Regions from separate parts of the Homo sapiens genome. Here region 1 is linked to region 2. The links come from fine-mapping of genetic effects on gene expression. A gene starts in region 2. The other region holds a variant in brackets. All regions are shown on one strand. Distances are from middle to middle.

The links. PIP is the estimated chance that this variant, and not a neighbour inherited with it, causes the effect. A credible set is the group of variants that fine-mapping cannot tell apart.
Region 1: its variant is the best candidate, but not a certain one, in a credible set for the expression of IPO7 in whole blood (INTERVAL, PIP 0.62).

The regions. Positions count from the first base shown.
Region 1 is chr11:9,473,330-9,477,719 of GRCh38, forward strand. ZNF143 (zinc finger protein 143) reads left to right here. Exons shown (of 16, transcript NM_003442.6): 4 at 612-695; 5 at 1,221-1,304. Among named protein-coding and RNA genes, the nearest start is that of ZNF143, 15 kb to the left of the region's middle. The variant T/G (reference allele first, on the strand shown) is at 2,308.
Region 2 is chr11:9,382,150-9,386,539 of GRCh38, forward strand. It overlaps IPO7 (importin 7), which reads left to right and starts at 2,503. Exons shown (of 25, transcript NM_006391.3): 1 at 2,503-2,698. The coding sequence starts at 2,615. RefSeq lists an enhancer at 2,505-3,020.

The DNA.
Region 1 (4,390 bases), 91 kb after region 2:
GCAGTGAGCCGAGATCACGCCATTGCACTCCGGCCTGGGCAACTAGAGCAAAACTCTGTCTCAAAAAAAAAAAAAAAAGACATTTGGTTTTGCTTATCTGACATTGTCTCTGAATTAGTGTTTGCTTTGCTCCAGGAAACAGCCAAGTCCTCAAAAACTCTTTGTTTCTATGGAAACCTACTGAGCACATGCATACATAAACAGGGGTCTTATAGCCCTCAGGGATGAGAATGACAGATGATCTCACATACACTGACATAATCTGTCTGTCTTCCCAGCTTCAACTCCCCACTGGTCATGGTCACTGATTCTAAGTGACTCTGAAAGGTATAAAGCAGTCCAACTCATGTAGCCTGCTGTGATGAGCCACTCTTCCTCTTGACCTCATCTAATTGAAAATTGCAGGGGAGGAAGGATGGCTGAGGGAGGATTTTCTGCTTTCTGTAGGATCACTGGATGTGTTATTGAATTGCCTCAGAACATTGAGGGAAGAATCAAGATGAACACGAGCTTAAGTTGTGTATGTTTTTATAGTTGATATCATTTTGAAATTGTATAAAGTTTAAAATTTTTGTTTGTGCCAATTTATTGTCTTGAATCTTTTGTTATAGATGCAAAACTCATAGATGGCCAGGTCATTCAGTTGGAAGATGGTTCTGCGGCCTATGTTCAACATGTACCCATACCTAAAAGTAGTAAGTATTTAAGATAACAGCACGGGAAACCATTTTAATTCTCAGCTTTTAGTATTTGCTACCTGCAGCTCCCTCTTACTACCTAAACTTGGTCTTGTTCTCAAGTCCTCCTTCTGTAAAGGGAGATTATAGATGCCACAGAGTGGATCTTAACCAAGACTTTCTCGTAAAGATAATGGAAAAGAAGTTACTGGACTGCACTGTGGAGATAAATGAGTAACAGTCCTGAGTGAATGTTTCTGTTTTTTGAGCTGAATCTTACATGTCTCTCATTTTCTTCATTTTTCCCCTTCTTTCAACTCTCTTTAATACTGGTGTATATTTCTAAAACCAATATTCTAATGTCTTTTTACCTTTAAACACTGACGCAGGGAAGCTTTACTGAACTTACTTAAATGTTCAAAGACTCATGAAGCAAGTATAGATTGTTATAATGTGTTAATGGTTTATTGACTCTTGTTGCTAAGTGAGTTAATTGGAATGTGCTAGAAAACATGAGATCTAAATGTAAGCATTGTTCTTGAGCAGGGGACAGTTTGCGTCTAGAGGATGGTCAAGCAGTACAGTTAGAAGATGGTACCACAGCATTTATTCACCACACCTCCAAAGGTAAAATAACTTTGAAAGTATGAATAAAATAAGGGAGAAGTGGGAGTGGTGGGGGAAAGAAGACCTGTGTTTAGCTTCTGAATTGTTGTCATGGGAAAGAATTGTATTTATTCATTAAAGTACAAGGTGGCAGATTTAAGCATGATTTAAGGAAAAATTTTCCTACAATTTGAGCTGTCCAGTGACAAGCTGGAACAGCAAACCAAATGACTGGTCCCTGGAAGACTTAAAGTAGAGGCCACATTTTGTTTTTTTGGTTGGCTTTTGTTCTAAGAGACAGGGTCTCACTCTGTTGCCAGGCTGGATTGTGGTGGCACAAGCACAGCTCACTGCAGCCTCAAACTCCTGGGCTCAGGGATCCTCCTGCCTCAGCCTCCTGAATAGCTGGGACTACAGGTGCATGCTGCCTCTCCCAGCTAGTTTTTTCATTTTTTGTAGAGACAGGGTCTTACTCTGTTGCCAGGCTAATCTCAAACTCCTGGCCTCAAGCCAGCCTCCCAAAGTGCTGGGATTATAGGCGTTAGCTACTGCACCCAGCCTTAATTTCATATTTTAAAAGCAGCCTTGGCTCCTTTTTTAAATGATTCAGAAATAAAATCACAATGTAACATTGAAATGGTTAACTTCATATTTTATTCATTTCTGTATTTTAGAGATAAGATCTTTGTTAGGCTAGAGTGCAGTGGTACAATCATAGCTCACTATAGCCCTGAATTCCTGGGCTCAAGGGGCTTTCCTGCCTCAGCCTCCTGAGCAGCTAGGACTACACGTGTGTGTCACCACAGCCAGCTGATTTTTAAATTTTTATTTTCTGATTAATTTTTTTTGTTAAATATAGGGTCTTGCTATGTTGCTCAGGCTGGTCCTGAACTCCTGGCCTCAAGCAGTCCTCCTGCTCCGACCTCCCAAAGCAGTGGGGTCACAGACATGAACCACTTTGCCTAACCTATTTCTTCCTCTTAAATGCAATTTTTTGCCTGGGCATGTTGGCTCATGCCTGTAA[T/G]CCTAGCACTTTGGGAGGCCGATGCAGGCGGATCACCTGAGGTCAGGGGTTTGAGACCAGCCTGGCCATGCAAAACCCTGTCTCTACTAAAAATACAAAAAAATACAAAAATTAGCCAGTTGTGGTAGTGCATGCCTTCAATCCTGGCTACTAGGGAGGCTGAGGCAGGAGAATCGCTTGAACCCAGGAGGTAGAGGTTGCAGTGTAGTTGAGATCGTGCCACTGCACTCCAGCCTGGGCAACAGAGTGAGACCCTGTCTCAAAAAAATATATATGTGTGTGTGTGTGTGTGTGTGTGTGTGTGTGTGTGTGTGTGTGTATAAAATTTTTAAAGCAAGGTCCTTTGCCTACTATGTTTAATTGAAACTAAGTATACAATGTCAAAAATATTTGAAGCAAATACAGCAAAATGTTAATGCTTATTACATTTGTTTAAGGGAAGTTCAGGGGTTTGAGGTGGAATGTCTAGGAATGATGAGTACAGCTCTGCAACCAGACTATGTATATTCAAAGCTACTTTTTTTTTGCTGTGTGACATTAAGCAGATTACTTTTCTGTGCTTTAGTTTCATCATCTGTAAAATGAGGATTATAGTAGGTGTCCATATCATACGTAGGGTTGTTGTGAGGACAGAATGCACAAACATGTAAAGCACTTAGAACCGTGCTTGTCTCATACTAAATGCTCAATAAATGTTACCTATTGTTACTACTTTAGAGAATATTTTATTTTAATTAATTAATTAATTTATTATTTTGAGACAGTCTCGCTCTGTTGCCAGGCTGGAGTGCAGGGACACGATCTTGGCTCACTGCAACCTCCGCCTCCTGGTTTCAAGCGATTCTCCTGCCTCAGCCTCCCAAGTAGCTGAGATTACAGGTGCCCGCCACTACACCCGGCTAATTTTTGTGTTTTAGTAAAGATGGGGTTTCACCATGTTGGTCAGGCTGGTCTCAAACTCCTGACCTCAGGTGATCCGCCCACTTCAGCCTCCCAAAGTGCTGGGATTACAGGCATGAGCCACTGCACCCAGCTAGAGAGCATTTTATTATAGAATGACATAACACGTTTTAGAAAGGCTGTTTTGTTGTGAAGCCAAAGGGAGGAATCTTTTTTTTTTTTTTTTTTTTTTTTTTTTTTTGAGACAGACTCTCGCTCTCTCTCCCAGTCTGGAGTGCAGTGGTGCGATCTCGGCTCACTGCAAGCTCCGCCTCCTGGGTTCACACCATTCTCCTGCCTCAGCCTTCGGAGTAGCTGGGACTACAGGCACCCACCACCATGCCCGGCTAATTTTTTGTATTTTTTTTAGTAGAGGCGGGGTTTCACCGTGTTAGCCAGGATGGTCTCGGTCTCCTGACCTTGTGATCTGCCCTCCTCAGCCTCCCAAACAAAGGGAGGAATCTTTAAAAAATTTAAAATACTTAAATTTATAAATAAATTTCTTTAATTACAGTTGGAAAAAAGTAAAGTCTGCACCCCTTCCTTCCTTCCTTCCTTCCTTCCTTCCTTCCTTCCTTCCTTCCTTCCTTCCTTCCTCCTCTCCCTTCCCTCCTTTCCCTCCTTTCCCTCCCTTCCCTTCCTTCCCTTCCTTCCCTTCCTTCCCTTCCTTCCCTTCCTTCCTTTTCTTTCTTTTCTTTTCAGCAGAGTCTTGCTCTGTCACCAGGCTGGAGTGCAGTGGTGCAATCTCGGCTCACTGCAACCTCCACATCCTGGGTTCAAGCGATTCTCCTGCTTCAGCCTCCCAAGTAGCTGGGACTACAGGTGCGCGCCACCATGCCCAGCTATTTTTTTTGTATTTTTAGTAGAGATGGGATTTCACCATGTTGGCTAGGATGGTCTCAATCTCTTGACCTTGTGATCCGCCTGGCTTGGCCTCCCAAAGTGTTGGGATTACAGGCGTGAGCCACCACAAAAGGCCGCACTTTTTTCTTTATCAATAAGAGTTAGTCACAGGTTCATTGTAACTGGCTAGATTTATTATTTCACTATCTCTATATATATATCGATATAAAATCACTATTTTATATCAATACCAGTATAGATATAGATATATCTTAGTGTGGACATTTAGAGGGGAAAAAAC
Region 2 (4,390 bases):
TGGCTCACTGCAAGCTCCGCCTCTCGGGTTCGCGCCATTCTCCTGCCTCAGCCTCCCGAGCAGCTGGGACTACAGGCGCCCGCTACCGCGCTCGGCTAATTTTTTGTATTTTCAGTAGAGACAAGGTTTCACCATGTTAGTCAGGATGGTTTCGATCTCCTGACCTTGTGATCCGCCCGCCTCGGCCTCCCAAAGTGCTGGGATTACAGGCGTGAGCCACCGCGCCCGGTCTTTTTTGTATTTTTAGTAGAGAGAGGGTTTCACTGTGTTAGCCAGGATGATCTCGATCTCCTGACCTCGTAATCCGCCCGCCTTGGCCTCCCAAAGTGCTGGGATTACAGGCGTGAGCCACCGGGCCAGGCAATTTTTGTATTTTTAGTAGAGATGGGGTTTTGCCATGTTGGCCAGGCTGGTCTCGAACTCTTGACCTCAGGTGATCCCGCCCACCTCAGCCTCTCAAATTGCTGTGGTTACGGTTGTGAGCCACCATGCCCGGCCTAAATTAGGAATAATTCTGTCTTACTTCCAGTACTTCCAGGCACAGTGGCTGGCATATACAAGGTAGTAACATTGCAAAACCCACCGCTTCAGGGAAAGGCTTTCGTGAGCCTTTCCTTCTCTTTTTTTTGTAAATTAAAAACAATAAGTGATCATTTAACACATTGTATTTGAAGGCTTATAATTAATTTTAAGTATATCTGTTTATATAACTTTGTTACAATAATAACAGATATGAAAGGAAATTACTCCAAATCTCACCATCCTGTTAATAGAAAATAAATTATTTTCATTTGCTAACCTTGCTTTTCAGTCTTTGTCCATGTTACAAAGCTATATCCTTCCATAAATACTTTTTTGTTATATTTTTTAATGGCTGTGAAATATTTAATTTACTGGATTCTTGCTATTTGCTTAACCAGTCCTATATTGTTCAACATTTCTCTTCAGAGGCAGAGTGATTTAGTGGAAACAATGGAAAGTTTGAAAACAAAGATCTTAGGTTTGAAATCTTAGTTGAACCTCTTACTACGTGACCTTGGGTAAGTTATTTAACCTTTCTAAAACAAACTTTTTCTTGGCTGTTATAAAAGAGGACTTTTTCTTTCTTTCTTTCTCCCCCACCTCCCTCTTTTTTTAGAGATGGGGTCTCGCTATGTAGCCCAGGCTGTAGCGTAGTGGCTACTCATAGGCACGATCTTAACAGGCTGTCACCTTGAACTTCTGGTCTCAAGCAATCCTCCTGCCTCAACAGGAGGATTACGCCTGGCTAGGAAGGTGTCTTTTATTTTTATTTATTTATTTATTTATTTTTGAGATAGAGTCTCGCTCTGTCACCCAGGCTGGAGTGCAGTGGCATGATCTCGGCTCACTGCAAGCTCCACCTCCTGGATTCACGCCATTCTCCTGCCTCAGTGTAGCTGGGACTACAGGCGCCCACCACCACACCCGGCTAATTTTTTGTATTTTTAGTAGAGACGGGGCTTCACCGTGTTAGCTAGGATGGTCTCAATCTCCTGACCTTGTGATCCGCCCACCTTGGCCTCCCAAAGTGCTGGGATTACAGGTGTGAGCCACCGCGCCTGGCAGGAAGGTGTATTTTAATAGGGATTATGCTTTTACTCTGCATTAAGAGGTGATTTATATGAAGTCCCAACTAAAATTTGGATACTCAATAAAAAGCCATGATTTCAGTATTTGGTAATTACTAATACGTAATGTGATAAAAACCTTTCACACATAAAGTTCATTTAATCTTCCGTGTTATTGCCTTAGGATAAAGTCTCATAAGTGGAATTACTGGGTCAGAGTTTAAACATTTCGTTTCGTTTTGTTTTTTTGAGACGGAGTTTCGCTCTTGTTGCCCAAGCTGGAGTGCAATGGCACGATCTCGGCTCACTGCAACCTCCGCTTCCCGGGTTCAAGCGATTCTCCTGCCTCAGCCTCCCTAGTAGCTGAGACTACAGGCGCGTGCCACCACGCCCGGCTAATTTTTTGTATTTTTAGTAGAAACGGGGTTTCGCCGTGTTAGCCAGGATGCTCTCGATCTCCTGATCTCGTGATCCGCCCGCCTTGGCCTCCCAAAGTGCTGGGATTACAGGCGTGAACCACCGCGCCCGGCAGTTTAAATATTTTAGTGGCTATCAGAAACACATCTCAAATTGCTTTTCAGAAAGTTTCCTTCAATCACGCAGCCATTAGCAATCGATTGCACCACACACTGTATCTGACTCCCTTTATGAACATTGTGGATATAGTATGTGAAACCTTTTGTAACTGATTGTTTTGCTTTTCTTTTTGTGGAACTTGAACATTTTTCGTTTTTGAACAGAAAGACTTGTCTGTAGGAACGACAGCTCAGGCAGCCACGTGGGCTGCGGACTGTGTTTGTGGACTACATCTCCCAAAGTGCTCCGCAGGCGCGCCCACAGGAAGTCGCCGGAGCATCTCCCGCCTCCACGCCGAGGCGAAGAGGTTCTATCCGGGGCCTTGGCGCTTCTCTTTCCTTTCGCGCCGGTTGCCGCTGCGGAGCGCGGCGGGTCCATGTGCGCAGTGAGTGGCGCTATTCCTGGCCCAGTAGCACCCGAGCCCCGGGTTTGACCGAGTCCGCGCTGCGATGGACCCCAACACCATTATCGAGGCCCTGCGGGGCACTATGGACCCAGCCCTGCGTGAGGCCGCGGAGCGCCAGCTCAATGAAGTAAGGACGCCCGGCTAGCGGTGGCGGCGGGCAGGCGGGTGGGCAGAAGTGGCAGGCCGAGCCCCCGGGGCCTGGCCGGAGGCGCGGACGACGTCGTTGAGGGTCCCAGCAGGAGGGTGGGGCGGACATCTGACGGCGACTTCCACGCCGGGGCGCCTCGGTGTGGTGTGGTGGTGGTGGCTGCAGCCAAGGCTGCCTTTGCTTCGGATCCTGAGCTGGGCCTCTGGCTGCGGTCTAGGCATGAGGAGCCGGCTGAGGCGGGGCGGGCGTGACGGGTTGGACACATGGCTGGCTCGGGTGGCTGGCCGACCTCTGGCTCATTCCCAGCTGGTTCCTCACGTCCAGGAGGGGGCGAAACTTACTGGGAGGTTTTTCAGATGTTTCTGAGACCAGTCTCGCCGTCGCAGGGTTTGGAAGGGCTCCTGGGAATGCCGGCTGGTCCTTTGGGGGCTGCGCCTGTCATCCTTGTCACTTTGCTGGGCTGATCAGTGGCCTGCCTCGGGCACAACTTCCTCCTCTCTGGCTGAGTTGCTAGGGAAGGCTTTCAAAGGCAAGCCCGCGCCTCCTTGGCAGGATAGGAGTAGTGCGGGACACTCACAGAGTCTGATCCCTGCTTTTCCGCTGTCCTAATGCTTCAGTCGGGGAGCTGGCTTATGTAGTGGGAAGGATCAGGTGAAGTGCACCCTTCTAGGTATAGCTGCACCATTGATTCCTTGAGTGACCTTGGGCCAGTCGCTTAACCTCTTGATCCTGAGTTTTTCCCATTCATAAAATTACGCCACAGAGTTGCTGTGACAGACAGGTGAGATAATGTTAAGTCTGAGTGCCTTGGAACATGCTGAGCTCCTTATCAGTTCAGATATTGCATTCTCTGAAGGTTTTTTTTTTCCCCCATATTTTGTGGGGACCGCTCCTTGGAAAACAGCTTAATTGCATGAATATTTATTGTACTATCTCCAGTGTCATTCTTTGTTTCTAAACTTTTGCATTTTTACGTATTAATGATCAGTATTTTAAATCCTTCTTAAAAGGGCTGCTGTAACTTTTCTGCCAGTTAGTAACTGTCCTTCAGCATGCTGCTGAATCTGCCAGCTTTACTGAACTTTAGTGTACATTTTTTAACTGAAAAAGAAATCACACTTTAAAATAGAAATTCAACTATTTTATGCGTCTTTTAGCTGGTAAGTAAATAATTTAAAAACATTGTTTATATTGACTTACCAGAAACAGCAGAAATATTACTAACTGGACTTTCAGTGTAAAGGGCTGCACTAGAGATCCCTGCCCTCACGGAACTTACAGTTCAAGAAGACTACCTACAGAGTTTACACAAATTAAATGTAAAATTATTTCAGAATGTTAAATCTATTTTATATGTAAATGAGATCATTATTATACCACACAAAGTGATGATTACATGTTCAAATTTTTAGACTCAGAGTCACCTTGGGAGGAGCTTAGATTTTTTTGGATATAAAATAGTGAGTTGAACCGTATTACCATTTTGAACCATTACCAAACTATGGAAGGAGCAATGGATCACTTTTTGTTTTGATTTGCTTAGTGATAGACATGGGTTAAGTTGAAAATTATTTTGCTTATTAAATAGTAATGCAGTTACAAGCCTAGAAAAGCTAAAAGTTTAGTCATGGTCATTTCTACCATGACTTTGCTCTAATCGCGTATTATTTT